2 linked regions of the Homo sapiens genome follow. The protein of the gene in region 1 purifies or fractionates together with the protein of each later gene. This does not show direct contact. Each region holds a gene or a part of one and is shown on either strand. Other genes may lie near its edges. The genes, in order: MSI2 and ANXA13.

Region 1 (15,799 bases):
TGAGAATTTGAGATTATAATGTGGTATGGTCCAGGAACCCCAAAGCTGAGAATGAATACAGAAATACAGACCCAATGCCAAACTATACAATGTATGTGGATATAATCCTCCACAAGCAAGATGTAGCAGACACAAAGGTCCCAAGAACCTCAGGTAACAGAACTATCAGGCAGACTATAAAATAAGCAAATTGAAAATTATTAAAGACACAAAGAGGCCGGGCGCGGTGGCTCACGCTTGTAATCCCAGCACTTTGGGAGGCCGAGGCGGGCGGATCACGAGGTCAGGAGATCGAGACCATCCTGGCTAACACGGTGAAACCCCATCTCTACTAAAAATACAAAAAAATTAGCCGGGCGTGATGGCGGGCGCCTGTAGTCCCAGCTACTCGGGAGGCTGAGGCAGGAGAATGGCGTGAACCCGGGAGGCGGAGCTTGCAGTGAGCCGAGATTGCGCCGCTGCACTCCCGCCTGGGCCACAGAGCGAGACTCCGTCTCAATTAAAAAAAAAAAAAAAAGACACAAAGGAACCTTTGACACCATGAGAAAATAACATAACACTCTAAAAAAGGTAGATTTTAAATAGAACTAAATAGAATTTCTAGAAATGACAAATATAGTCACCAAAATGAAAAGCTCAGTGATGAGTTAAACAGCAGATTAGACAGAGTCGAAGAAAGAACCACAGATGGATCTGAGAAAATTGCCCAGGAAGCAGCAAAGACAAAGTGAAGGAAAGTCTGACAGATTCAGAGTGTGCTGGATAGAAGGAGAAGATGCATTATACATTTCATATAAGTACCAAAAGACAATGAGAGGGATACTTCATTTAGAGAATCCCAAGATTATGCATATACAATGAGTATTGAATCAGATAAAGAAGAAGAAATTCATACTTGAATATAGCAGAGTAAAAATGTAGGAAGCCAAAGACAAGGAAAAAGTCTTAAAACCAGAGAGAAAAGACAGATTACCTACAAAGGAATGACAATTAGACTCATAGCAAATGTTTCAGAAATAAAGAATAGGAAGACATGGTATATTCAAAAAAGTGCTGGGGTAAAATAACTGCCAATCTTGAGTATTACACCCAGAGAAATCATCATTCAGGAATGAGAGTGAAATATGACATGTTTGTCTTAGCGGAGAGAGCGTACCACTCAACAATCCCCTGAAAAAAACTAAAGGTATGTTTCAGGGGAAAGGGTCTATATCTAGAAGGAAATTGGTAAATAAGGGCAAATCTAAACGATGAATTGACTGTATATAAAATTACAATAGAGATTAAAATTAGGGGTATAAAAAGTAGGTGGATCTAAAAATAAGCAACAGTAAAACATAATGAGAGGATGTAACTGAAGTTGAATCATTCTTAGCTTATTGGATAGTTCTAGGGCATTTGATTTACTTTAGATCACATGTACAGGTTAAAATTGTAATCACCGAAAGAGTAGAAATAGAATTTACAACTTCCGGCCAGACACAGTGGCTCACGCCTGTAATCCTAGCACTTTGGGAGGCCAAGGCAGGCAGATCAATTGAGGTCAGGAGTTCAAGACCAGCTGGCCAACATGGTGAAACCCCGTCTCTACTAAAAATACAAAAATTAGCTGGGTGTGGTGGTGGGTGCCTGTAATACCAGCTACTCGGAGGCCGAGTCAGGAGAATCGCTTGAACCCAAGAGGCAGAGGTTGTAGTGAGCTGATTGTACCACTGCACTCCAGCATGGCTGACAGAGTGAGACTCTGTCTCAAAAAAAAAAAAAAGGCCTCGGCCTCCCAAAGTGCTGGGATTACAGGTGTGAGCCACCATGCCCGGCCAATAGCATCTCTTATACATTGCTAGTAGGAGTACAAATTGGAACACCACTTTGGAAAACAGCTTAGTATTACCTTGTAAAATTTTACATTCACGTATGTTACGACCCAGCAATTACTCCAAAGAGAAATTCTGATCTATGTGCATCAGAAGGTAAAAATGTTCATAATAACACTGTTTATAATAGCCAAAAAAAAAAAAAAATTCCTGAAAGCAACCCAAAGGCTTGTTTGTGAGAATAGAGAAACTAAACTGTGGCACAGTCACATAATGGAATATTATACAACTGGGAGAAAGAATGAACTACAACCTGATACAAAAATCTAATTTTGTTCCCCCCACCCCCCCAGGGCCCTGGCTAGAGGATCTAATTGATTCTTAATAATTTCATATTGAGTAAATTATCAAGCCTCAGAAATTTTTCATAAAGTTTCAAAACAAAAAGTAAAACAAAACAAATATTAGTCATTGATATGCATGATAAAACTTTTTAAAAAGCGAAAAATCATAACAAATACAAGATTCAGACTGGTGGTTACTTTAGAGGAACAAAATAGGGAGGAACACATAAGCAGATGTTACATAAGTCAAGTCATTGTTTCTGTTTTAGTTCTCTGGTTGAATAGCAGGTTTACAGGTATTCATGATATCAGCAAATAAAATAAAATAGGGCCATGAGTATACACAATGATGATAGTGTGTTATACTAGAGATTGTGACTAATATATTTTTGTGCCCCTAAATTGTGATATTTTGTGATCTTTAAAAATATCAGCAATCACAATAAATGTAAATGGACTAAACTTACTAGTTAGCACAATAATGAACCAGAGCTAACTATATGCTATTTACAGGAGACTGAACAAAAAATTTGGGACATGGAAAGGTTCAAAGTAAAAGGAAAGAGGGAAAGAGAAAGATCTATAAGTGAAGGGCTAATTAAAAGAGTAGTTACATTTATTACAGACAAAGTAGACTTTAAAGCAAAAGGCATTAGGGATAAGTATCTTCTGTGCCAATATTAAAGGAATAATTCCTAGGAAAATAGCAAATCTAAGCTCGTATGCACTGAATAACAAGGCCTTAAAATACACAAAGCAAAAAGTATGAGAAGCAGAAAATGTATAGTTACAGTGGGAAATTTTAACAGTTCTTTTTGATGCACCTGACAACATACTTTTAAAATACAGCAAAATTTGAGAGAATTACAGGAGAAACTGGCAAATCTAGTCATATAGAAATTTTAATGTACTTCTATAAAAACCAACAGGTCAAGCTGACAAAATATTAGTAAGGCTACAGGAAATCTAGACAATATAATTAATAAGTCTGATCTAATAGACCCATATAAAATGCTGTACTTAAAAATTAAGGCATATACATTCTTTTCAAATCTACATGAAATATTTATAAAAATTGACTGCACCAAAGCAAGTTTCAATAAATAACAAAGAATCTGCTTCATATAGATCACATTCTTTGACCTTAATTCAGTTAAGTTAGACGTTAGTAACTAAAGAATAACCTCAAATACCCCTCAAATACACCTGTATTAATTCACTAGTCAAACAAGAAATCGTATCTGAAATCTAATTTTTTTTTTTTTTTAAACAGGATCTCGCTCTGTCACCCAGGCTGGAGTAGTGACATGATCATGGCTCGCTACAGTCTCAACTTCCCAGGCTCAAGTGATCCTCCCACCTCAGTCTCCTGAGTAGCTGGGCCTATAGGTGCATGTTAGCACACCTGGCTAGTTTCTAGAAAAGTTTTCTTTTGCAGAGATGGGGCCTCACTATGTTGCCCAGGCTGGTCTCAAACTCCTGGGCTCAAGTGATCCTCCCACCTTGGCCTCCCAAAGTGCTGGGATTACAGGCATAAGCCATTGTGTCCAGCCTAAAATCTAAACTTTTTTTACCTCATTGGTGATAAAAAGTCTATATATCTTGTGGAATATAGCTTGAGTGGTACTTAAAGTGAAATCTGTAGTCTTAAATGTTAAAATCAGAAAACAGATGGCTAAAAATTAATTACCTAAGGCAACAATTCAAAAAAAAAAAAAAAGAGCAACAGAATAAATCCAAAAAGAGCAGAAGCAGAAGGGAATACTATATGATATATATTAATATTACATTACATATTATATTCTCACAAACTATATAATAGTATATATTTTCTATTGTGCCATATATAACAATATAATATATAATAATATATAAGAACAAAACTTACTGGAACAGAAAAAGAAACAATATTGAAACTAAAGTCTGGTTCTTTGGAAACACTAATAGAAAGTAGAAAGAAAACATTAGTAAAAAAAAAAGATCTCTGGCACAGCTGATCCAGATAAGAAAAAATACATATAAAATGATATTTAGAATGAAAAAAAAACATTATGGATAGATAGAGCAGAGATTAAAATACATTAAGAGATAACTATGAACAGCATTTTGTCAACACATTTGAAAACCTAGATGGTATGGATAATTTCCTTGAAAAACATAGTGTATAAAAATAGATTCAAGAAGAAAACAGAAAACCTGAAGAGATCTACGAGCATTAAAGAAATGGAATCAGTAGTTAAAAATCAACCCACGAAATGTCTATCCCAGACCCAGACAATTTACCTGCAAAACTACCAAACATTCAAGGAACACATAATTCCAATCTTACACACACTGTTCCAGAAAATGAAAAAAGAAGGAACATTTACCGGTTCATTTTATGAGACCAGTATAACCAGACAAAGGCAGTAAGAAAAGGAAAAACTGCAGCCAATTTGACTTATGAACATGAATACAAAAAGAATCCTAGAATGAAATTAAATGTTGGCCATCATTCATTCATTCATCCACTCACTCATTCAGTCAATCATTATTTATTGAGCGTCAACCGTGCGCCAGCAGGCACTGTGCTAGTACATGGAGAGCAGAAAGGCACGGGAGCTTCTGGCTTAGAGGAGATGGGCAATAAAGCAAATGATCATACAGGGTAAGGTACACAGAGGACGTTCTGGTAAGGTAACTGCATATCAAAGGGCATTCGACCCTGTCAGAGAGGTCTGGGAAAGATTTCCAGGCATGTAAGTGGAGTAAGGGTGTATGTGGGAAGACTGTTTTGTAAGCTGTTGCAGGGCCTCAGGTGGGAGATCTGGGATGCAGCAGCAAGAAAGATGGATTTGAACTTGGGCTTCCTTTAGAAAGGCTAAGTGGAGATGTTGAATAGGAAATTGACCAGAGCCTGGAGCTCTTCAGGAAGGGTGGGGCTGGAGATTTCAATTTGAGTGGCATCACCATGTGTTTAAACCCATCCTGGAAGATTGAGTTTGAAGAAGGAAGTGTCCAACATTGTCTTGGGCTGTTGAGACTTTCAGAGGGTTGAGGACTGATATTGTGCTGCTTGAATTCTCCTGATGCAGGGGCTACATTGAGTGAGCTGGAGAAAAAAAATGCATAAAATAATAATAATAATAATAATAATAATAATAATAAGCTATTACAAATAATGTAGAGCAAAGGGGCAGCAAGAGGGAATTTTTTTGGACAATGAAACTGTTCTGCATCTTGATTATGGTGGTGGTTACATGACTCTATACATATGTCAAAACTCATAGGATTACAGACCAAAAAGAGTAAATATTACCGTATATAAATTAAAAATAAATGAGTAAAAACAATGTAGTAATGGAGACTTAAAATCCAGTTCTTTCTAAGCCCTGACTTTGTAACCGCAGCTCTAGCCCCTCTCTGGATTTTAAATCAGTTCTATAAGTGTCAGCTTGTGGAGGTCTATACCAGACAGGAAGGGCCCCCAACTCTCGCCTTGTGAGGGACAGAATAAACACGCAGGCAGCAGAGGCCACACGGCATTGGACTGATGGTCAGAGGGTGGGGGTGGGGTGTAGCCTGGTGAGTTTGGCACCTCTGAGACGCTGATGTATAATGAGGGGATTAGATTAGGAAAGGCCTTTCTACCTAGGATGGCCTGTGGTTCTACTGTAAAAATCCCAAACACAATACAATTAGCTCTGTTGTCTGCATTTTGTTTAGAATAATCAATCATAATAAACAATCATTGTAACAACTGGCTGTTCAACACATGAGACCCCAGATGATTTGGGAAGGAGCTTGGAGTGACAGGAAATGTTTGGGTTTGTGGTTTAAAGCCTTAGAGCACCTTCTCAATATGATTATATTGAGTAGTGATTGATAATAAACACGACTCAGGTTTACAGTGAAAAAGGAACTTTTACAACATTGGTTCACTTCAGCCTCTCACCTTCACCACATCAATCCTGTCAAGGAGGAATTACTGCAATTTAGGGAACAGGGAGACTGAGGGTCTGGTCACTCAAGGCTATGGCTGGTGTTGAGATTTTCCCAATATTCCATTTTTCCAAAGCCCACAGTGGATTTGGTTCAGTTTTGGTGTTGAGTGTATTCCTTTGTCTCCTAATCCTATGAAAATTAATGGAAAAGTGTTAATTGGGCATCAATTCATGCTTAACATTAATCTCAGTATTTGATGAACCACAACTTTATGTTGCCCCTCATGCCATATTAACTCAGTTTATTGCAACAATTTAAAACGATACAGATTTAAAACAATATGGGTAATTGTATCCGTATTGTTTCAAATGCCCCATAAATTGAAACCAGCCCGAATTTGGGCAGTCTGGAATCTGCCGGAGAAACTTTCATGCGATGCCTTTGGAAGGCTACAGACATTGTCTTTTTGGAGTTTTCAGTGCATGAAGGTATGAAACCGCATTTATTAAGCACCTACTGTATGCCAGAACCCGTGCTGCACAATACTACTGCTGCTAAGGTGGGAGTGATTCTGAAGCCTTCTGCCACCCTAGCTACCTCTGCAGGTCGTGAGGGGTCTTGGGCTATTTCAGTATCATGCACTTTACTATCCTGGCATACAAAGGCTGGGTGAGAAATAAAATATATAACGAACGGATTACACAGGGGTTTCCTGAAATAACCACCCTTCCCATCCATCCCAGAGACACCCCAAAAGTACTTCTCGTTATATACAAACATTTGCTTTGAACCTCAATCATGTGACCTTGACTCCTATAACCTATCTTATTACATTTTTAAAACACTGTATGATTAACGCGGAAACCCTTTCTTCGGCACTTTCTCGCCACTGGAATCGCGTCAGTTTCTCAAAGTTCCAAAATAACCTTTCCCGGGCACGGATTGGTACCTCTACTGGGGAAGGGCGGGGAACCGCGCAAGACGTGCCGGTGTGGAGCCAGAGCCAGAGAGAACTTCCAGCGCAAAAGGAAAATAAAACTTGTGGCTGGTGTTTGTGCAGGAGGGTCTCCGCCATCCTGAAGCCCCCCGATCCTGGGGCGTCTCGGGGGCCGCCAAAGGAGCGCCAGGGTGTGGGTTTGCTCCCGACGTCCTTGACCTAAATTTCTGAGCGGTGGCTGGAAACAGGGCACAGCGGAGGGCGGGCGGCTGGTGCCATTCCCGGATCTCGGCGGCAGGGGCCGGCAAACTTGAATGGAGAGGGCGAACTAGAGAGGGTGGGGGGCGTCTTCTCCCAGGTCCGGGTGAGGAGCCGCAGCAAGCTCCCCGCGCCTCCCCTCCCCCGATCCACCCGCCCCCCGCAGCCCATGTGATCCAGGGAAGTCGGGGTGCGCTCCCCCTCGCCCTGCGCCCTGCCGGCCCGGAGGCGGGGTCCCCTCCGCCCGCGGGGTTCGCGCGCCACCCTTGTGGGTCCGGCCGTGGGGGGCCGAGTGTGCGCGCGCGGGCAGGCGGGGGCCGCACGGGGGTGCGTGACGTCACCGGCATTGGTTACACGACGTTCTAGAACTCCGCCCCACGTGCGCCGGGGAGGAGGGGGAGGAGGAGGAGGAGATGGGGGTGGGGAGGAGGAGGGGGAGAGGTGGGGATGGGCCGGGGGGGCGGGGACGGGGGGGTGTGCGAGGCAGCGGGGCTGAGCTAAGCCGAGCCCACGTGTGACGGCTCTCGCCGCTGCCCCGGCTCCGCCGCTCGCAGAGAGATTCGGAGGAGCCCGGGCGGGGGGGAGGAGGAGGGGGAGGAGGGAGCGGAGATCTCGGGGCTCGGAGCCGGCCGCCGCTCCGCTCCGATCGCTGTGGGGCTTGGTTTTTTGGGGGTGGGGGGGCGGGGGGGCTCAGATATGGAGGCAAATGGGAGCCAAGGCACCTCGGGCAGCGCCAACGACTCCCAGCACGACCCCGGGTAAGTTTCCAGCCGCTGCCCACCGCGCCGCCTTGGGCTCGCTCTCCTTGCAGCGGCGGGGACGGCGGTGCGCGGAGCCGGGCATCTCCCGCGCCCCCCCGCCTCTCCCGCGCGCCCCCCCCGTGGAAGTTACACACCTTTGGATTGCATTTCGCCGTCACCTTCTCCCCCACCCCACCTCCCGGCTCTCGCTCGCTCGCTCCCCCCCGCTTTCCTTTTAGCTTTTGTAAGTTACACGTCAAAATGGCCGATCTGACATCGGTGCTCACTTCTGTTATGTTTTCTCCCTCTAGTAAAATGTTTATCGGTGGACTGAGCTGGCAGACCTCACCAGGTAAGGGAGGGAGGGGGGGACGCCTGGGTCCCCCCCTTCTTGGCTTCTTTATTGCTCTTTGTTATCCCGGTGTAGGAGCCCCCCCCCCCCCGCCATTGGCTCCCCACTTCTCCTGTGCAAGGTTATTTTTTTTAAATAGCAAATCCTTTCTGAGCCCTCTATGCGACCTCTGTTGCCGAATTTCCCCCGCGTGTGCAAAAAATGCAAAAACAAAACAGAATAACAACAGAAAACTACTTTTGGATTTTGTCCTTGATCAAAATTTGCATTGCTTTTTTTTTCCACACCTTCTCTCCCCCCCCCATCTCTCTCTTTCTCTCTCTACAGATAGCCTTAGAGACTATTTTAGCAAATTTGGAGAAATTAGAGAATGTATGGTCATGAGAGATCCCACTACGAAACGCTCCAGGTAAACCATTCCCTTCTGGATTTTGTCTTTATTTTAGAACAAAGTTTAAGTTTTATTTTTGGAGGTGTCTTCGGAAGTAGCTAAGCGGATTAGAATGGGGCTCAGGCGCGTGGCTGATCTCGAACGGCGCTCTATACCACCCCCACCGCCCCCTAGTAACCCCAGAGGTTATTGTTAATTGGAGCTGAACTCTGGATACAGAGATACCCATCTCTCTGCTTTTAAGTCATTTTCCCGTCGCTTCTTTTTCTCTGTTTAAAATGACATTCAGCTTCATTTACTTTCGCATAGTTTTTTTTTTTCTTTTGATCTTAATGTGTGTTTCCCCCACACTCCCAGCTCCCCAAACTCTTAAGATCCCTCTTAGAAAGATGGTGGTAAATCTCTTCTAAGTGCCGGGCTTTCTTCGGAATAAAACAAAGCGTTAAGAAAGGGAAGGGGAGGAGGAGAGGAAACTGAGGTGGCCAAAGAGTGGAGGCACCAGCATTTTCCAAGTTACCTCCACCCTCCCTGCCCCCGTTCCACTTCCCCCGTTAACCTTGATGTTTTTTCTTGCGAGGTGGAGGGCTGTAGGCAGGAGGGGAATTGGAGGAGGGGAGTGGGAGGTGGGGGTGCGTGGGGGGCAACTTTTGCTCCTCATTCAGCCTTAGGTCTCACTCCTGGTTGCTTTCAATGGTGTCACATTTTCTTGTTTGTTTTTCTCCCTCTTTGTCTCCTTTCAGAGGCTTCGGTTTCGTCACGTTCGCAGACCCAGCAAGTGTAGATAAAGTATTAGGTCAGCCCCACCATGAGTTAGATTCCAAGACGGTAGGTTGCTTTTTGTTGTTGTTGTTCGCCCCTTTTCAGGAACGATCTGGGCATTGACAGCCCCATTTAAAGGGACAGTGCCTTCTTTTGCTTCTGTGCTAGAACTGGGTAGTTTTAAACTGAGCTAGCGAGTTGGCTCAAAAGTTTGCTGCTGTGGCTGGCTTTGGGGTTTTCTTTTTAGAGCCTGTCCCATTGCAGCTTCAGAGGCTGCCAAGGTTAGGCTTGGGGAGGAGAGGGTTCGGCTCCTGGAGAGTCTGCCTTCCCGGCCTGGGGACTGTGCAGAGAAACTCCACCAGAGAGCAAATGCAACTTTTCTTTGTCAGCCAAGCACAGCACGCGTTACCAACTGTGGCTGTGGGGATCAGCTTTGAGAAGGCACAGCCTGCTTTGTGGCCAAGGGGGACAGCAGTGGGAAGGAGGGGAGAGGGCGCTAATTACAGGTCCAGGCAACAGGTTTCTCTTGGGGCACTTGGGATTTGGAATGTGCTTTGGGAAGGGAAGGGGACGCTGGCGGAGCTGAGCTGGGCATCCACTGGGGTGACTCCAGATGGCATGAAATCTAAGGCTGATAAGGCCTGGGGGTTTCAAAGTGATTTTTTTTTCCTTCCTTTTCTTTCTCAGATCCTTTCATTTGAGTATGGGTACTTTTATACATCACAAGTTTTAAAAATCCAGAGTAGAAGGGGGAAGAGTCTCCAGGCAGAGGTCAGAAGGGGAAGGGAAGAAAGAGTGTCTGTATATAACAATACATTTAATGGGAGGGGGAGTGTGCAGTGTTTTATTTAGCCCCTGTGTGGGCTTCCTGCCTCTCCTCCCTTCCCTTTATGTCTACCAGAGTTTCCCCACGGTTTTTATTAATATATATCTGCCCCAAACAGAGGCCTTAAGATGACATTGGGCTGTAGTGCTGGGTTGCATGGAACTTCACTCCTCTGTGATGGGGTAGTGGGACAAGGCCAGAAATGGGGCTCTACTTCCATCCGCCTCTTATGAAAGTGAGCAAGACATTCCCTACCTCTGGGTCTCAATTTCCTCTTCTGTAAAATAAGTGGACCAAGGTGATCTTTCAAGCCCCTTTTGGCTTTAACATTGAATGGAAGAGAAGGAAAGCAAATAAAGAAACCTGGCAACCTTCGGTGCACTTGAATTGATTTTGCAAATTCACCCTCTTTCTCTGATCAAAGAGATCAGGAATGCGTGCCTTCTCCTAAGAAAGAAACCCACCTACACTCTTAGTTGCTTTATTAATTGTCCTGGACTTGTCATAGCTTGCATGCAGCCCAGCCTTTTGTACTTTTAGATAATTTAATTTCAGAAATGATTTGTAGGATGATAACAGATGTCTGAAAAATTTTTCTCTCCTTGATTTCGTGGCTAGCCATTTCAAAAAGCTAGTGAAATTAAAGAGGAAAATCTTTTCAAGGCAAATTTGGGAATTTATCATCCACCCCCTCTTGCTACCTGGGTGGGAGAAACAGTATTTGGTTTCTGTGGTGGCTGGTGGGTCATATTCCTCTGTATCAGGTGCAAAGCCTGCAGTTTCCCTCTCTGATTGTTTATAGACATGTTTTGGTCACTATTATTTAGTGTAACCTAGCTTTTGACTTTGTTTCAACGTTCAGTGCAGGAGGCAGAAGCGGTTGGTTTATTGACATGGAAACGAGGATCTTGTTTACTGTTACCTTAAAAGCTTTGTTTAGGTAACGGCCATTCACATCCAAAATAGTACCCTAGTCTTTTCCTAGAGGACTTGTAGATACAGTAAGTAGAGCTGTACCTAACTAACTAATGTTTTAATTTTTGGTAGTTTTCTTTTTTGTTTGTTTTTTAAAAAATAGTTGACAGGGATGTGCAAAAGGTTGGGATTTGCCATGCTTAACTTGACCCTTCCTCTCCTTCAGAGATCTCAGCGTGTAAACTTTGCACACTGAGGAACTTCGATCATGATATAATGCTCTGATACGGCCACACACCATCCAGGAGTTCTGAATTGGCTTTTTCGTTTTGTGATTTAAATTTTCTTTAGTACTTCACTTTCTTCATTGCACCTTACTTCTTCCAGCTCCTGGCACCTCCCTCAACATACCCCACACCTGTTACCCCATAAACAAGGTGATTTCTGATTGCAATTGTGTGCCGGCCAACTAAAAAAAACACCCTCTGGGGAGTATTTATAAAAAGACACCTCTGTCTTACGTACGTCAACAGAATGGAAAATCCACACCTGTTGTATTTCTCTTGTAGACAAGCGCTAGTCAGTGCTGGACACACCTGTAGATGCAGTAATGTTAATCTTTATGAAAGGGTAGTTTTCTAGATCAGAGATTTTTGTCTATTTTAGTTTTTGAAAAGTAATCTCTCATTTCTCAGGTGATGTTTAAAGGTAGGGAATGCAATGCAGACTTTTATTAGGTCTTTAAGCCCCCGTAATAACAGCAGGAAATCCTCATATGTCTTTCTGGCTGGGACCCTAGGTGATGTAAGTCAGGGAACAAATGAACTATCCTCCGTGCTTCCCACTCCCCACCCCCACCTCCCTACTTTCCTCCACAGCATTACTCTTTTCTCCCCTGCTCCTTCTCATGGCAGAAGTGAAAACAAAGCTCAGATTTACTTTTTAAAAGGAAAACATTTTAATATGAAAGCCAAAGCCTGGAAATAAATAACTGGTAGCATGTTTATACTATCTGTGTTACATTTTTACCCAAAGATTTGTGACATTTAGAAATTCAATGAAAACCGACAACGGGAATATTTTCACATTTCTTTCCTCCTCTTTTTATCTGTGCAGTCACTTTTTTCCTCCCTCACATCAGCCTGTTAGATTCACATGCTTCCAGGAGAACTGTTCTGAGCTGTACAGCTAGACCCTGATTGAGCATCATGCGTTTTGCAAGTGTGTGATTTGGACTGGAGGATGTTTTTCCACTCGGATTGAGGTTGGGGTAGGGGAATTCCCTACTTGTTGCACTAGATTCTGACTACTTCTTGTATTCAGTAACTTTTTTTTTTTTTTGGTGCCCTCCCCATGATGGGATTTCTTTTCTAATTTGGGTTTAGGTTGCTTATAGATTTTTACTCCCTGTTGTTTTTAAAATCCAGGTGGATTTAGCTCACATGCTTCATTTTCTTTACTTCAAAAAATTATTTTTTATCTTTTGAGGTATAGCTACAGAACAGATGATCTTTTTGGTTAATCCTGGGTAACTTTACTTTTGCTAAAATGAATTAATTAACTCAAGCAGAGCACTGTGTTGGATGTCTGTGGGGAGTTTTTGGATGTTGTTGATTTAAAAAATTTTTGGAAGCTCCTTTCCCTCCTGTGTTGTTTAGTTATCATCAGGGAGAAGAAATACCATCCAATTACCTACTGCTAGAGAATACTTACATTTAATTTTCAGGTTATGATTTTTTTCCCAATGATAATGATGCTCCCATCTTTTCTCCCAGCCACGCATAGCAAATTAGATGTAGATACCATTTAATATTCAGTGTCTGGAAGAAGAAGCCCTTGCCTAAATAAGAATTACATGAGATCTGGTTTATTAAGAGCATCACACACTGAAATGCATGGTGGGTCATTTCAGAAAGGCTAGCTAGCTATGTTAGTTACCTGATCTGTTGGAGGGATGGTTAAAGTTGAGATCAAAGTTTAAGAAACTTTTGAGTTGCCTGAGAAGTTACTAAAAGCTGGATTATAAGCCTGAGAAATGAGTGATTAATAATTAGGTGATTAATCATATATTTTTTCCTTAAAGTACTTTATTGACTCCTGCTTTTCTATTTTTTTTCCCAGATTGACCCCAAAGTTGCATTTCCTCGTCGAGCGCAACCCAAGGTAAGTAGGAGAATAAACAGTAGGATTTTAGCACTCAGAGATGATTGCCAAGAATTTCAAATTTCAAACAGCATTGGCCATGAACTGTTGAAGCCTGGTATTCACTGTTCCTTCGGGGTATCAGGACAGGCTGGGCAAGTAGTCCTGTGAGATAACCATGCGTCTCTAAGTTAGCCATCCCAAGGTGGCTTCTGAACATCCACCTGGGGGCAGGGACAAGTCTGATGCTTAGTGGGAGGACGTGTTTCCATCGACTGCAGTATTTTTTGCAAGGATTCTATTTGTTTTTTAAGCATTTCCAATATCATATCAGGAAAAGTCGAACATTTCCTTGTGACTCTTTCGGAGGGTACTCTTTGAGGCTTTACAACTTGGAGTTAATGCAGAGGAGTAGAGTTTGACTAAACAGCTGATCCTTTCTTGGAAAAGACAACTTCTTAGGCCCATAAAGCCTTAAATCTGGGAGGGCAAGCAGTGGATATCTTGGTTTTAGGTTGGTTGGATAAGTCAGGGCATACTTGAAACCAACAGTGCTTCTTATTTGTGCAAGTGCTGGTGCCTGGGTGGAGAAGTCCTGAAAATGTTGTAACCTTGTAGGAGTGGCACTACAAGACTTGCTTAAAGAATTGAGATAGGGCTTCACTTTTTTAGAAGTGTGTCGTTAACATAGTTTTCACTGAGCTTGCCAGGTGTGGCTATGAGAACACAGTTGCTTGAAGCCTAAGGTTAAATTGGAAGGGCTTATGGCTTACATGTTACATTTACACTTTTTAGTTACTATTTTTCTTCCTTATGTAGCACTGGAAGAAATGCTTTTTATGTATCTTCGGGATTTGTCATTCTTTTAGGGAAAGGGGAAAAGTTGAAGCTTCTAAGTCGGAAAAGGTTGTGGCTTTAGCAAATTCAGTTTATTTCTTTATGCACAGTCTCCCAGAAGTGGAACCTTTTAATCGTGTAAAGAGAGGAATGGTTTTGCACATTAGTATAGAAAAAGTTGGTGATTGTGATGGTACTTTGAGAATTTCAGGTCTGGGGCATACCACTTGATTGATTGATTCCTTCCTTCCCTCCTTCTTTCTCTCCCTCCCTCCTTGTTCTCTTCTCCCTTTTTTAAAGATGGAAACACAACTTTTTAAGTAAATACAATGAAATATTTTCTTCAGGCATTTTTTTGTAATGCTTAAGCAAATGATAGGAATTAATGATTAGGTTATTTTTGTACTTAGCACAAACTTTGGAATTGCCCTTATTGTTTTAGTTACTTCCCAAACTGTCTGTGATCCTTCACATTTCAGAGGGCTTCCCAGAGTTAGCAGTATTTCCTGGGTTTGGAGGAATTGCTGTTTCTTCCATAAGTGTGAATCTTCAAATTTCCAGGTTAGTCATTTGATCACTCAGAGCTTGGATCAGATTACCCAAGAGGGAAGCTGGAAAAATCCCTTACTTGGTAAAACCATGGGTTTGACCTGTTTTTCTCTCCCCTTTGTTGTCCCCCTTCCTTAACTTTGTTTTTAAATGAGAAAAGCAATATTTCACTTTAATACACTCTGCAGTGATGCATTCAACTTGAAAACGAGACAGAATGTTTCTCAAACTTGTCAAAGTGTGCATTCCTTTCCCAACCCTCAACTCCACATCTGGAATGTTTGTAGGTGAATTAACATGAAACCACTTGGGGGAGAACATCTTTCCATGAATTCTAGGGATTTAATAATAACACCTTACTGTGTATGACATACTTCACTTTACGGAGGACTTGGCTGTTCATTATCTCCATCTGAATTCCATCTCCTGGGGCATTTGGCTGTTGTCCCTAACCTTCTCTCAGTCTCAGTGTGCTCATCTGTAAAGTAGGAGTGATGACATAGCTCTCCCAGAAGGTTTTTGTGTAGAGTAAAAGAGCATGGTCTGCGACAAAGGTCTTCGTCATTGTCATTATTTTTCTTGTCGGTTTTCTCATCATTGTTCCGGTTGTTGTTTGCAAGTGGGACAGCCTGGGTTCGGATGCTGGTGGTGCCACTCCTTAGCTGTGTGAATTTGAACAGGTCGTTTAACTTCCTTGAACCTTCGTTTTTCCATCTCATAGAGTTTTTCTGCAGATTACGTAAATTAATAAAGGTAAAGGGACTGAAAAAAAAAAGACGTTGCATGGTAATGCCATAGAAGCGTTAACCTGCTATCTTATTTATTTATTTATTTATTTTTGAGATGGGATCTCACTGTGTTGCCCAGGCTGGTCTTAAACTCCTGGGCCAAGCTATCCTCCCACCTCTGCCCCCCAGAGTGCTGGGATTATAGGCGTGAGCCACTGTGCCTGGCCAACCTGCTATTTTTTTCTGCCATTTTTATTAAGTCCTCACATCAATCCTGTGAGAG
Region 2 (15,787 bases), on another chromosome or scaffold:
GTTCTGTATTCAAACTTATGGGGAAAAAAGCTCTCATTTCCTTTTCACTAGTTTTGGAATTTTTAAGCATGAAAACATTGATCCGCAAGCCAATATCTTGCCTTTGAAATGTGGAATCTCTTTGAGAGGGGGGAAAGAAGCACTTGAGAGATGGAGAGAGACAGTGGGTCTCCAGGATATATTTTGAGTAGCTGGATCCAGTTATGCCTGAAGCTAGCGCGTTTTCCAATTATGTGAGCCAAAAATTCAATTGTTTGCTTAAGTTGTTGTGAGTCAAGTTTTCAGTCACTTGCAACCTACCTTCCTAAACCGAAAGTGTTCATGGTAAATGTAGAGATGAAGCCCAACTGCTCTATTTACATAGTACAAAGCCAAGAACTGGACAGAGTGAGTGACTCTGATGTGATCACACACGTAAGTTGTAGCAGAGACCACCCTAAATCCAGGGGGCTTTGCTGTCCCAGGGCTGTGGTTTTTCTGCCACAAAATGCAACATTACATTAAGATGTGGTTTTGCTTATACGGATGTTTCATTTCCCCAACTAGAGCGTAGCATCTAAAAGGGTGGGGTGAGAGCTGTGTCTTGTATTTTTGCTATTCCCTGTAACTCTGCTTAGTGTCTTGTACATGGGAAATGTACAATCAGTATTTGCTAACACACCCATGAGTTTCAGGTGGCATTTTGTTCTATGTTATTTTTATTTTTGTACATGCAAGATGAAATGTGTGACTTTCAGGGTTTTTACTACTGGAAAAATATAGGAGTATACTTTCAGCGACTCTAATGATTTCCTGCAGATTTCAGTCTTTTCATCTTAGTCAAGCAATAACTTTTATAAAGTAGGCATTATATGAAGACACTGTGGGAATTAGTTAAGCAATAGTCCTGTTTCTGCTCTTAGACATTTATTAACTAATGGGGCGAGGGGAGACTATGCACAAACATGACAGAAATCCTAACATTTTTGCTTTTTCTATGTGGAAGAAAGTACCTGTCCCAAAATCAACTGTAATTTGGGGGTTTTAGCTAAATTACCTTACATAAATAAAATACTACGAATTCTCCCTGCAGAAAGAAAAATCAGGCAAGTGTTCAGCATTTAGAAAATAAACATTTATGTGCTTTTATTTTAATTAATATTGTATGACTATAAGAGAATCTGAATTACTTGTAGTCTTAATATCATATAATATTTTCCCCAAAGTATTTCTAAATGGAAATTTTATTAAATGCAAATTACACAGCATAATGTAGTTGCTGTGATTGTCACAGCAATCAATGAGATTTTTGCTTTCTGTTTAAGGTGTTTTAGTTTCCTAGGGCTGTCATAACAAAGTGTCACAAACTGGTGGCTTAAGACAACAGAAATCTATTGTCTTACAGTTCTGGAGGAGAGCAGTTGAAAATCAAGGACCAGCCTGAGCAACATAGCAAGACCCCAGTCTTGAACTCCTGATCTCAAATGACCTGCCTGCCTCAGCCTCCCAAAGTGCTGGGATTACAGGTGTGAGCCACCACGCCTGGCCAAGACCCCATTCTCTTTTTTTTTTTTTCTTTTCTTGAGACAGAGTCTCACTCTGTTGCCCAGGCCAGAGTGCAGTGGTGCAATCTCGGCTCACTGCAAGCTCCGCCTCCTGCAAGACCCCAGTCCCTAAAAAAAAATTGTTCGGAAAATTAGCCAGGTGTGGTGATGCACGCCTGTAGTCCCAGCTACTTGTGTGGTGGAGGGCTAAGGCTGGAGGATCACCTGAGCCCAGGAGTTCAAGGCTGCAGTGAGCTATGACTGTACCACTGCACTCCAGCCTGGATGACAGTGAGACTCTGTCTCAAAAAAAAAAAAAAGTCCAAAATCAAAGTGTTGGCAGGACTGTGCTCCCTCTGAAACCTGCAGGGGAAAATTCTTTCTCTCCTTTTCCTGGCTTCTTGTGGTTGCTGGCAGTCCTTGGCATTCCCTGGCTTGCAGCTGTAGCATGCCCATCTCTGCCTCCATTGCCACATGGCCTTCTCCCTGTGTGCCTGTAACTTCATATCGCATTTCCCCCTTCTTCTACGGACATCCATGAAACCATTCTGTTTTTCACTTTCAGTGCAGTATTCAATAAATTACATGAGATATTCAACACTTCATTATAAAATAGGCTTTGCGTTAGATGATTTTGCCCATCTATACACTAATATAAGTGTTCTGAGCATGTTTAAGGTAGGCTAGGCTAAGTGATGACATTCAGTAAATTAGGTGTGTTCAATGCATTTCCAACTTAACGATATTTTCAATTTATGATGAGTTTATCGGATGTAACCCCATTGTATTGTAAGTTTCGGAACATCCTGCAGTATAGAATCTCATCCCACCATTCTTTCTACTAACTAGCAGGCTGATGTTGGGTGAGATATTGTCACTTTCCAGGACCGGAATTTCCTAATCTATAGAATGAAGGAGTTGGTCCAAGTGATTTGTCTCTTCTGGTCCCCCTTGTCCATTTACAGATTCTCCAACTTTCTTTTTTTCTTTTTTTTTTTTTTTTTTGAGATGGAGTCTCGCTCTTTTTGCCCAGGCCGGACTGCAGTGGAGCTATCTCGGCTCACTGCAAGCTCCGCCTCCCGGGTTCACGCCATTCTCCTGCCTCAGCCTCCCGAGTAGCTGGGACTACAGGCGCCCGCCACCGCGCCAGGCTAATTTTTTTTTTTTTTTTTTTTTGTATTTTTAGTAGAGACGGGGTTTCACCGTGTTAGCCAGGATGGTCTTGATCTCCTGACCTCGTGATCCACCCGCCTAGGCCTCCCAAAGTGCTGGGATTACAGGCGTGAGCCACCACGCCCGGCCCACATTCTCCATCTTTCATACTTTTCCAGTAGCTACAATTAAGCTCATAGCATTGCAACTTCAGATTTTACAGAATTTTAAGACCCGGGAGCACCACAAAAGTTCATAAACTCTTGGTCTGCCGATAGAGCCCATCATAGAAGGAAGGTGAGAGAGGCAGAATGTCTCCCACCTTTCAAGGGGAGTGGGACACCGTTGGCTTGAGGACTGGACAATTCTTTGCTGTGTGGGACTGTCCCATGCAGTGCAGGATTTTTCTTATCCCTAGGCTGGGCTCCAGTTCCCACTCCACCACTCATTATGGCCACTCAAATACTCCCACACACATTACCAGCTGCCCTATCGGTGGGCAACATCATGACTTTGAGAACCAAAATCCAAGAGATGTAAAAAGCAGATGTAGCCCAGTTGACTAGAGGAACCTATTACACAGCACCTGTTATAATTTATGATCACTAAATATTTACAACCATACAAAAAGCCCTCCCACCTGTCTTGTGCCTTCTCTTCACCCAGATCGTGTCTTCTCACACTTCCTTCCCAGATAGTTTCCTCCTTCTCCCCTCTGGGCCTCCAAGCATGCATCCTTCCAGAAATGGCCTGAGGTCACAGGAATGTTCCTTCCTTCCCCACTGCTGCTGTTGCTGGTAATTATCCCAGCCACCTTCCTAAGTACCCATCCACCTGAGGAAGGAGAAAAGGAGGGGCACTTAGGGAAGCACCATCTATGTCAAATCAAAACCTGACTATGGCCAAATCTAAATAGTCAATAGGTGTCTACACTGGTAGAGATGTTGAAAAGTAAAAAGACACTCCTGCCTCTCAGCTGTCTATCTTTCACCTGGAGCCATAAACTGTATCTCTTCCTTAACTAGGCATTTCCTGTGCTCAGTAACTCAGCACCCTTGAACAGCACTTATCTCTACAATGAGCATTGCACATCAAATTGCCCTGCCCCTTGTGACCTCTGAGATGTCACTACTCAGGGGTCCCTGAAGGACGTGGTTAATGACACAGAGGTGGGACACAGAGGACGTGGCCTTGGGAAGTCTGGGCTGGCAAAAGGAGACAGAGGATAATAAAACAAAAATTCAACACTAAAGAAAAAATAATAGTGAGTGTTCAAAGCAGTGGTCATTAACCTACATCTTCTTCTCTTCTCCCTCATTCTGCTGTCAATTCCTGGAGGAGAGTTTGTCTTGCCCACCACTATATTTCCACACCAGGCACCCTGTGTGGCACCCAATAGTCTCCAGTCTCAATGACATCTTTTATTTTCTCCAATTCACAAAGCTCTTTCCTATGTTGAGCCTTAGCACAAGCTAAGAACATCCAATTTGGAGCACTTTCTCTTTTTAAATGATGAACTCCTTCTTTTAATTCACAGCTTCAGTGTGAGCTCCTTGAAAAGCCCTTTCTTCATTTAAAGCAAAGTACACACACACACACGTGTGCACACACACACATACTCTTATGTGCACACACACACACGGGTTACTCTTTATTCTAGCGTCCTGCTTATCTTCTCCATAGCCCATATGACAATTTATAATTATTTATTTGTTTGTTTCTTGTATAGAAATTTGACTGCAAGTTCTAGGAAGGGAAAATCCATATCCATCCTGTCCGTCTTTCCAACAATTAGCACATCCAAGGCACTCAACAGATAATAGTTTAAAGAACAAAATAATAAATATATAAAATCAGAATTTAATAAACCTATACAAAATTTTAATTCTATGTTACATAAGAAATTAGCTTTAAATAAAAGTGGCATCTTAGACCAATAGTGGAAAAGTGCATTATCCAGTAACTGTCTAGGATTGACTGAATAACAAAAACTAAGCTGACTCCCTTTGATATAGTTTGGATGTTTGTCCCCTCCCTATCTCCTGTTGAAATGTAATTCTCAATACTGGATGTTGGACCTGGCAGGAGGTGTTGAATCATGGGGGTGGATCCCTCATTAATGGCTCGGTGCCATCCCTTTGGTGATAAGAGAGCTCTTGCTCTGCGTTCACACATGATCTGGTTGTTGAGAAATGTGTGGCACCTCTGCACTTCCTCTCTTGCTCCTGCTCTTGCCATGAGACATACTGGTTCTCCATCACTTTCCTCCATAATTGTAAGCTCCCTGAGGCCCTCCAGAAAGGAAGCACCATGCTTCCTATACAGCCTGCAGAACCATATGCCAAAATAAAACCACTTTTCCTTATAAATTACCCAGCCTCCGGTTCTTTCTTTATAGCCATGAAAGAACAGCCTAACACACCCTTCCTTCCTTAATGTATGTCAAAATCAATTCCAGATGAATCAAAGATATAAGCCTTTGAAAATTAAGCCATTAAAAGAACTTGGAGGAACACTTATGCAAGAAGATTTAAGCATCTTAATGCAGAAATGGTTTTTCTAAGCAAGTCAAAAATAAAAGACTGATATATTTGAATACATCAGAGCTAATACTTTCTTCACATATATACCCTCAAAACAAACAAAGACAAAAGATAACAAACTGGGGAAAAATAATTGTTACACTTCATGAAGGCCTAGATTTTATTATAAATAAAGTGTTTTACAAACAAATAATGAAAATACTAATAACTCAAAAGAAAAATAAAGACCACAAACAAGCAAACCACAGAAAAAAATACACAAATGGCTTTAAAGAAATGGGATATACAATTTCCAGGATATCAAATGAAAGAAATGTAAATTTAATAAAACACCATGTTTTTATCTTTGAAGTTGGCAGAAATGACAAAGTTTGACAATATTTAGTGTTAGCCAATATGTAGGGAAAATCACACTGGTATATTCATATAGTGGGAGTGAAATTTTCATTTTTTTAAAGTAAGCCTCATGGATCAGCTGGTCTTTAAGAGTGGTCCAGCATTTTATGTCAGTGTGGAGGACAACTTGGCAACAGCTATCAGAATTTTCAGTGCACATAGTCTTTAGCCAGCAACTCTATTCTAAGATTTTATTCTACAGATAAGAAAGCACAACAAAGATGTGTATGAGATATTCATGCAAAAGATCAAAAACAATCTAAATGACCTTCAACGGTAGACTGATGAAATAAGGTTTGGTTCATATCCATAACAGTTGACTACATGGCCACTGAAAAAGAAATGTGCCAGTGTCAAATATCTCTTTAGTATATGAAATATACACTATATTAAGTGAAATAAGCAAGGCACAAAAAGACAAATATCACATGTTCTCCCTTATAACAAATATCACATGTTCTCCCTTAAATGTGGGAGCTAAAAAATTGATCACATGAAGGTAGAGAGTGGATAGATGGAGAAAAGAGACTGGAAAGGGTGAGTTGCGGGGGAAGAGGAGAAGTGGGTTAAAGGGTACAAACACACACTAAGATGGAAGGAATAAATTCAGTGTTGGATAGTAGAGTACGGTGGCTGTACTCAACAGAAATCTATTGTACTCAGGCAAACACTCTCAATACCCTGACTTGATCACTACTCATTATATGCATGTAACAAAATGTCTTATGTACCACATAAGTTTGTACAAATAAAAAAAGAAACATGTTGTAATAATCTCAGAAAAAAAAAGGAAAGACAAGAAATATGCAAGGCATGGAACAGAATACATTGTACAAACCCATTTGGTGAGGAAGAAAAGACAAGTTGGATCAAGATAAACAGAGAGGTAGGTAACTAGACAGGCAGACCGACGGACATAGCTGAATATGCATGGACCACTTCAGGAAGGACTCACGGAAAACCTCTGGGGGAAGGAAAAAGGAAGTCAGTAGGCCGACTTTTCACAGGACCTTTATGTATTATTAGAAACAAATTTACCATCTGCACATATTACTTTTTAAATTCAAAACTCAGTAAAATTTTTTAAATGATCTAGTGTAATGCAATGTAGCCTTCGAAAAATTCTCTGTAATAATAATAACAATGTTAGTAAAAAATAGTAATATTTTTCTATTTGGTTAATGCTTTCATTACTAAAAGGCATAATATTTTAAATGAACACCAGAATATGAAAGAATAACTCAACAATTCAGAAGTGAGGCAGGTTTAGTCTTTTAGGTGGGAAGAAGCTATTCAACTTTAAAAGCCTAAACTTTATTTATTAAGAAGTATATTATTTTAAAAACATGGGTACCAAGGAAACCTGGGCAGTCTAAGTTTATCTGTAGCTAGAGCCACTCCCTACCCATCCCCAACAATGTATTCAAATTCAGTGCCAAAAGTTACTTATTAAACACAAGAGATATTATGTCCGGGGGGAAAACTGTTGTAAACTTTGCCTGTAGGAGGACTGATCTCTTGATGAAATACAGAAAAACCATCTCAGAAAAAGGAAAATGGGCAATCGTCATGTAAGTACTCATTGCCTTTGGGAATTGGTTTTAATTTTGGTTAGCATGTGGAAGAATTTAAACTATAAAATCATGACTGATACTTGTATACTTTATCACTATGGTTACCCTTTAATATTGGTTTTAGCAACAGCATACCATGCTTTTAAAATGCATTGAGGCCGGGTGCGGTGGCTCACACCTGTACTCCCAGCACTTTGCAAGGCCAGAGTGGGCGGATTACTTGAGGTCAGGAGTTTGAGGTCAGCCTGGCCAACATGGTGAAACACTGTCTCTACTAAAAAAATTAAAAAAAAAAAAAAAGTTAGCTAGGTGTGGTGGAACATGCCTGTAGTCCCAGCTACTCAGGAGGCTGAGGCAGGAGAATCATTTGAACCTGGGAGGCGGAGGTTGCAATAAGCCGAGATTGCACCACTGCACTCCAGCCTGGACTACAAGAGTGAAACTCCGTCCCAAAAAAAAAAAAAAAAAAGCACTGGGGATATATTATTCCCTTATTGGCCAAAAATCTCTTAAGAGGGGCTAAAGAGAAAGAAGTATGTAAAATAAGGCAGTAAATAGTGCCTTGCAGAGAGCAAATGGTTAATATGTATCTGTAGAATGTATAACTAAAGCTGTTAGTTTGTAGCAAATTTGTATAAAACTTCATAAACTAAGCCCATTCAGAGTTATGTGGGAAAGATAGGTTCATGTTGCAAATATTAATAGACCAAGGTAAATACTCATGTAAGTCCACACAACTTGGATTGCAAGGTGAAAATATTCCATTATTATTTCTAAACATCCACATATTTGCAAATATCCATGGAATGGACTTAATAATTTACATTTCTTTTGAAATGTTTAGGCTCCTGAATAGTGTGTCTATAAATAGTTAATGACTAAAAACTGACTAAAACACTACCTTTTGGAACCAACTACACACAGGACAGATCAGAGTTGAATCTTGAATATTTTTTACATTGAAGTATATCTAAAGCTATTCCAATACAAATCTTAATAAGGTTTTGTGTACCTGCTGTAAATTTCCACAGCAAGAATGATATATTTCATGCACACTATGAGCAGAGAATAAAACTCCAAAACTTTCTGTAAACTGTTACTTTGTCTATAAGGTTTTTCCTTCGCTATATATTCAAGCTGCACTCAGATGTTTACAAACTTACAAATATATTCTTAGGAAAGGCATTGTTTTTCAAATCATCTACAAATAGCATTTTCATACCAGCAGAGATTATGAGCCATCCGTTCAGTGTATCTTTCAGAGAAACTGAAGCCTATTTTTCAAATATTTCTGATAGATGCAGAGGACCCCAGGAATAATCAATGGACCCTGCATTCACAGCTTAGGAGGATAATTTTGTCTTTTGAAAGTCAACCTAGGGAGCAGCTGGCCTTTAGGAGTGGACCAGCATTTTTATGTATTTTTTTTTAATCCTCAGAGCCAGTCGTACACCCTCTCAGAAGGCAGTCAACAGTTGCCTAAAGGGGACTCCCAACCCTCGACAGTCGTGCAGCCTCTCAGCCACCCATCACGGAATGGAGAGCCAGAGGCCCCACAGCCTGTAAGCACTTTATTTTCCCCCCAAATCATAGGTATGACCCCTGCTCTGTCATGGGGCCAATATGAGCCCCCAGTGATCTGTCATGTTGGACCCTCCACCAGCCACCAGCCATCATCAGGTGTGACTTCCAAGCAGGGAAATCTTTCCCTGCAAAAAGTTTGTTACTGTATTTACAGGTAATGTAAAAATGAACTCTTCTAGGGGCTTAGTTTCTGTTCCCAACAGTGTCTCATTAACAACTCCTTGAAATCAAGCACATGAGGCTACACCAGGACCACTATGACATTTCAGAAAATAGTAAAGGAACTCAACATGTGCACAAAGAATGAATACATGTAAAAAAGTAAATACAAAATCTTTTTAAAGAACAAAAAACTATCCCAGTAATGGCTTAACTTATTTGCATTAGAAAGTTACTTGAATATGTACAAACAAAACTAGAATGCTGGTGGTTTTGAAACAGCTACACAACCAAAACAAATATATAAATTAAATGATAATGTTATAAGTCAATGCTGTTTAAATGTATGTCATCAACATAGTGTAATAGACAATGTTATTTTGTTGAGATTCAATAGCTGTGCTCAACATGAAATGGTCCCAATGGCTATAATGCTGGGTTTGTTTTTTTTTTTTTTTTTGAGTTTTACTTGGTTTTTGTTTTGGTTTGGTTTGTTTTCTGAATCTCAGCAAATCTAAAATATGATGTGGTATGTGACTTCTGAGTTCTTTTATCATATTTCTCTATTGAACCTACTGAGACACTTTTGTTTGTAAGCCTCCTTGTAATGCCGTGGGACCTTCTCTCGGCTTACACACATGGTGTTTCTATTAAATCTCCCTCTGTTCACTCTTCTTTCATCATTAGCCTGCAATTATTGAAGTATGGCTGTTTGGCATATAAACAATCGTAAATACAAACACAAATGCAGACATTTAAATCATGAGCCAGGACTTGGTCATCTTGATGATCTAGGATGCTTTATATTAATTTTTAAGTTATTATCAGCATGAAATGCAAAAGACTCCTAGAAAAGTTTTTATTCCCCCAAGAATATGTCCACAGACCAGGGCCCATAGATAATTGACAACTATTATTGCAGAGCCAGTAGAATATTGGCCAGGAAATTGCATTTTTCAAGGTACTATCATCTGAAATCCTAACCAATCCTGAAACGAAAATTACTTTTGTGCTATCCTCAATTCTTTTGCCACTATTAATGATTTTTTTGAACCAAAGACCTAGTGTTTGTAACTAACCTATGTGGAGCAGCAGTAACCAAGATACTGGGTCATTATCATCCGCCAAATCACACAATGTTCAAAGAATTTCCTTATCCTGGAGGACATGTCCTTGTGTCCAGTGAGCTTTGCAGGTAGAGTGTACACAGAGAGAAAGATCAGATCAGTGGAAAAATCTGCTTAGGTTTAGCTAGATGACTCTTCTATTGTCTGGGTTTTCACAAGAATCACTATCTAGGGAAAAATACAGAAGTGAGATCAATATTAAGATTACTTTACCACGGGAGTGTGGCTATAGGATATGTGCAGAATGACAGAGGGAGGGAGACCTAGTAGAGCCATTGATAAATGTGGAAATAATCACAAACTCAAATGGACTCATGATTTCTGGGAAATTACTTGCAAGGCTAATGAACAGGCAATAGAAAGGACTACAGCCCTGCTACTCAAAGTATGGTCCCTGGATTTGTAGCAGCATCCACATTGCGTGGGCACTTGTTAGGAATGCAGATGCTCAGCCCACTCAGATCTATTGAATCATAGTCTGCATTTTAACAGACTCTTCAAGTGATTTTCAGGCACATTAAAATCTTAGAAGCACTGGACTATGGAACGCGTTGTCAAACTTGCCTGCATTGAGATCACCTGAGGAGTTCTAAAAGCCACCGATGCCTGGGTCCCAGCCCTAGAGTCTGAATTAATTGGTCTGGTGGTTGTCCTGCGCATCAGGGTTTGTAAGTGCTCCCCAGGTGGCTCTAATGTGCAGCAGAGTTTGAGAAACACTGGACTGTAGAATATGGCTAACCTTTCAAGAAGAGCTCTGCACACTGGGGACAAAGGCAGATGGTCATTGCACATGCTCCTAACTGAAAACCGATTTGTAAATGTTAGAACATCTGTTCAGTGGTCTGCCACGTTGTTTGTGAACATGCCAAGTTTATGACTTGCTTGTGCCAATATTTAGCCAACATAAATATTGTCTCCAGTGGAGAACAGTTTGGGACTTGTGGCAGGTGAACACCAGGCAAGGTGAACACTCAGATGAACGTGGACAAAGAACATCTGAAAGCTGCATGACAAGTGGGGAAATAGATCCAGATTCCTGAGAAAAGAAGACAGGCTCTGGAGGCAGGTGAAATATGGCTGAGAATTTGAAATTAAAATAAGTATGGTCTTAACCAAGGGTGTGCATTAAACTGTGATCCCAAATCCAGAAGACCCATGATCAAGCCCTAGCAGAAAGCAGTCTAGATCATTTCAAAAGACTTAAATAAATAAATAAGATCCTTATTTATTTATTTATTTAAGATCATCTTAAATAAATAAGATTAGGAAATATTACTTTTTTTTGAGACAGGGTCTTGCTCTGTTGCCCAGGCTGGAGTGCAGTGGCACAATTATGGCTCACTGCAGCCTCAACCTCCCTGGTTCAAGCAATCCTTTTACCTCAGACCTCCAAGTAGGTGGGACTACAGGCATGTGCCATCATGCCCAGCTAATTTTTTTAAAGACGGGTCATCCTATGTTGCCCAGGCTGGTCCCAAACTCCTGGGCTCAAGCGATCCTCCCACCTCAGCCTCCCAAAGTTCTGGGATTACAGGTGTGAGCCACTGCACTTGACCTCAGGAAATCTATTATCCCAGAAAGTTAGTCCTTCAGAATGCCACTGCAAAAGTGTAGGAGGAAGTGAAAAGGGCCTTTGATGTCAAAGCATGACATGCACCAATGCATACCTTCTTCATTTAAAGACAAGTCTCTGAAGGGTAGCTACATTTTAGGTACAATTATGCAATCTTGGCCTTTTGGATATTTTGTCTATGGTGGATGCAAAAAAAAAAAACAAACCAGCCATTGTAAGGAGGTGGTAAGAAGTCGGCAGAGGACAGATACACTGATAGAAGGAAGAACATGTTAAATGAAACCTCAACACAAGAATTCTAGAGCCGCGGGAGTCTGGAGCCACTTGGTGCAGGGGAGAGAATCCTGCATGTCCCAGCAGCGTGAGCCCACCTCCCAGTGCTACAGCCACAGCAACAGGAACCAAAACTAAAACTCCCAGTGGTGATGGTTGTAACTGGAAGTTTAAACGAGATCTTCTGAAATGTTAATGATAATAACTGACATTTATAAAGTGCTTACTAGACTGTGGGCTGTTTTGAGGGTGTGAACAGTGACCCTGGAAGTTTGAGTCCTTCACGCCACCAAGCACTTCACATGTGTTACGTCATTTGGTCTTCACAACAATCCTATCAGGGAGATACTATTATTAGTCCCCTTTTAAATATGGGGAAAGTAAGGCAAAGAGAGTTTAGGTAAATTGTTCCTAGTTGGACAGCTAGTAAGAGGTCAAGCACAGATTTGGATTTAGGCACAAATTTTTAACACTATGCCTTGGGTTCAATAAAGCTTCTTTTTACGCCAAATAGAAGATTAACCTATTGGGATTTCTGAAACTGTTGAACTGAATCATCACCTCGTCATCTCTTTAGCCCCTTCCCTGAGCTTTCTCCATCCCCTGCCCCCCAAGCTGGATTGGATGCTCTTCCTTAAGGCTTCCATAGTTCTCTCTGCATAACTATTACTCCACTCCCATGTGGTTTTAGAACCATCTGGGTTTTTTGTTTTTGTTTTGTGTTTTGAGACAGGATCTCGCTCTGTGGCAAAGGCTGGAGTGCAGTGTCACAATCACTGCTCACTGCAGCCTCAGCCTCTCGGGGTTCTCCTACCTCAGCACCCCCATACCCCCAAGTAGCTGGGACCACAGGCGAGCATGACAACGCCCAGCTACTTTTTAATTTTTTGTAGAGATGGGGGGTCTTCCTATGTTGCTCAGGCTGGTCTAGAACTCCGGGGCTCAAGAATCCTCCAACCTCAGCCTCCCAAAGTGCTGGGATTGATTACAGGTGCGAGCCACTGTGCCCAACAGAACCACCTGTTTTGTATACCTGCCTCACACTGGACTGATGGTTTCCTGAAGGTAGAATTGTATTTTGTTCACCTATATATCCCCATCACCAACACAATGCCTGCAGCATGGTAGATGCTTAATAAAATTTGGATAAATTCATCAATGCATTCATTGCATTTTCTAAATAAATCTTAAACAAATCAGTGTTTTGCCCAGTTGGAGTTCAAATTCTTATATCTATTTACATTCCCAGACCAATTCATGCGCAAGGCCCTGGCGTCTGTATATTTTTAAACTCCCCAAATGATTCTAATGTATCCAAAGTTGAGAGCCACGAGTCTAACGTCAGGTATTCTAGTGCAGTAGTTTTCAAATGAGGTCTCCCAGGCCCGCATCATTGGTATAATCCAGGATCTTGTTAGGAATGCAAATTCTGGAGCCCCACCCCAGATCTACAGAATCAAAAACTCTGGAGATGGGATCCAGCAATCTGCATCTGAACAAGCCTTCCACGTGAAACTGATATGTGCTCAAGTTTGAGAATGACAGTTGAAGCATAAGCCTTTCCCATGCCCAGGCTGGGGCTGTGCCTCAGCATTGACTATGGGGAACTCCCACCATTCAACCTACAGAGATGCCCAGATGATGGCATTGAAACCCGGGTTAGCACCACACCTGCCTCCTCAGGCTTCTCACCCGGAATGCAGCCCGGAGAACTCCCCCATTCTGCTCATTTCCCCACCCCACCCAGGGTTCCCTCTCTCCCTGCTGCCATGTAAGATGTGACTTTGCTCCTCCTTCACCTTCTGCCACAACTGTGAAGCCTCCCCAACCATGTGGAACTGTGAGTCCATGAAACTTCTTTCCTTTATAAATTACCCAGTCTGGGGTAAGTCTTTATTAGCAGCTTGAAAATGAGCTAATACAGACAGCAATAATTGGATTTAGGAAATACTCTAAATCCAGGATGATTTCATTTTGAGATCCTTAACTAATTACATCTACAAAGACTCTCTTTCCAAATAAGGTGAATTCTGCGGCTGTGAGTAGACATGAGTTGGGTGAGGGGGTGGGGGTGATACTGTTCAACCTACGACACTAAGGAAATTAGATTTTATTTCCTTAGGCCAGCAGTGATTTTAAACTTCAGCACATTAGAGTTCCTTGGAAGGCTTTCTTAAATGGAGAGTTGGGTCCAACCCCCAGAATGTTGATTCAGTAAATCTAAGGTGGAGCCCGAGAGTCTGCATTTCTGAGTTCCCTGGTGATGTTGGTACTGCTGGTCTAGGAACTACACTTTGAGAACTGCTGCCTTAGGCATAGGGAAGCCCAAGTCAGAATCAGACAAGGGAGTAACAACTTGAGTGCTGCTTTTAGCTAGACCATGCTGGAAGCTAGTGGAGAAGGGCTTGGAGAGAAACATGACTAGAGGCAAGTCAAGCACTTCGGAAGCAGTGGCCCTGGAGAGAAATGAAGACCCTCTGCCACCCTCCACCCTCATCGGCTAAAATAGCAACAATGGAACTGGGGAGAAGGTAGATCTGAGTCAAACGAACATAACTTGCTAAGTGGATGTGGGAGGTGAGGGAAAGGAAGACGACAGAGTGACTCCAGGTGTCTTGTCTAGTTTGTGTGCACAGGTGGATGGTGGCACATCCCAGGGATGTAAGGCAGTGACAGATTGAATTTGGTTTGGGGATCTATAGAGTTTGAGATATCTTTGCGAAGTATGAGTTCACAGTTGTTTTTGTTTGTTTGTTGGACAATTAGTATGTGTTTGATCGAAAGTAGCACACCACAGGACTCACTTTGGCTTAAATAACAAAGACATTTAATTGTCAATTCTAACAGGAGCTCTGAATTAAGCTGATTCCAGTGTTGGTTCAGCAGTTCAGTACATCATTAGGGACCCAAGCTATGTCTGCCTTTCTGTCAGACATACTCTGGATGTATTAGCAATGTCTCCCCACCTAGGTGCAAGATAACTGTCATGTGTTCAAGTTAATGATCTCTCAAGATAGTCACAAGCAAGAAGGAAGCAGATAGAGGGAAAAAATACCTTCTTGCTTATGTACATCTCCCCTATCAGGGAGGAAAATCTTTCTGCAAAGCTCCAAGCAGCAGACATCCCTTTCTATCTCACTGGCCAGAACTGGTCAAAAGCCCAACCCAAGACTGGCAAAGAGGAAGAGGAGAGCCTTGAATCATAATTCATCCCTGAGGCTGAACAAATCATCTTCTCAGTTCTCTCTCTCTTCTTTCTATGTGTTGGCCTCTTTCTCTCCTACTGAAAATAAGCTTTTTGTTTTCCTCGTATGGGAAGCAAAAGGGGCTGGTGAGAGGGAGGCATGGCCATAGATAGTTCAGGCACCAAGAGAACTCCATGGCCTCACATAGCTCCAGATTAGCAGCCTCAAGGAAAATCTCTTCTTTCTCTAAGTATCTGTAAGATGTCAGGGAAGAATTCCAGTTGGCTTGGGTCATGGACCTACCCTGTGAATAATCATAGTAAGTAAGGTTGGCCTTATCTTTATCATCACCGCTTTCTTATAACTATTATATTTATTAATATACTACTGCTATTACTACTACCACTACTGATACTAATACTACTAGATGGACTGAAATAGAAGGAGGATGCAAACTTGAAAATCAGATAGAAAGGGAGAAAATAATTCTCTTTCCAAATAATGGGGACTTGGATGGTTGTAGTAGGAATGAAAAGGAAGATAAAATGTTAAAGATAATTTTAAAGAAATAATAGACTAAAAATTAATTAATTAACTAAAAGAATTAATTTTTTTGGATCCAATGCATAAACTCTTCTACCAAGGGAAAGAATAACATTCATTGTTTTGATACTGATTGAGACAGAAATTTGCTCAAA

What was found.
Region 2: the proteins of MSI2 (region 1) and ANXA13 purify together in Homo sapiens (affinity purification with mass spectrometry; 3 studies listed by BioGRID and IntAct, with this or other methods). This does not show direct contact.

Annotation. Positions count from the first base shown.
Region 1 is NC_000017.11:57,248,770-57,264,568, forward strand, and holds the start of MSI2 (RNA-binding protein Musashi homolog 2), read left to right. Parts: upstream 1-7,753; 5' UTR 7,754-7,973; coding exon 7,974-8,035; intron 8,036-8,172; exon of another isoform or gene 8,173-8,227; intron 8,228-8,249; exon of another isoform or gene 8,250-8,278; coding exon of another isoform or gene 8,279-8,328; coding exon 8,329-8,369; intron 8,370-8,696; coding exon 8,697-8,778; intron 8,779-9,500; coding exon 9,501-9,585; intron 9,586-13,381; coding exon 13,382-13,423; intron 13,424-15,799.
Region 2 is NC_000008.11:123,728,718-123,744,504, reverse strand, and holds the start of ANXA13 (annexin A13), read left to right. Parts: upstream 1-7,111; 5' UTR 7,112-7,170; coding exon 7,171-7,185; intron 7,186-8,627; coding exon of another isoform or gene 8,628-8,750; intron 8,751-15,787.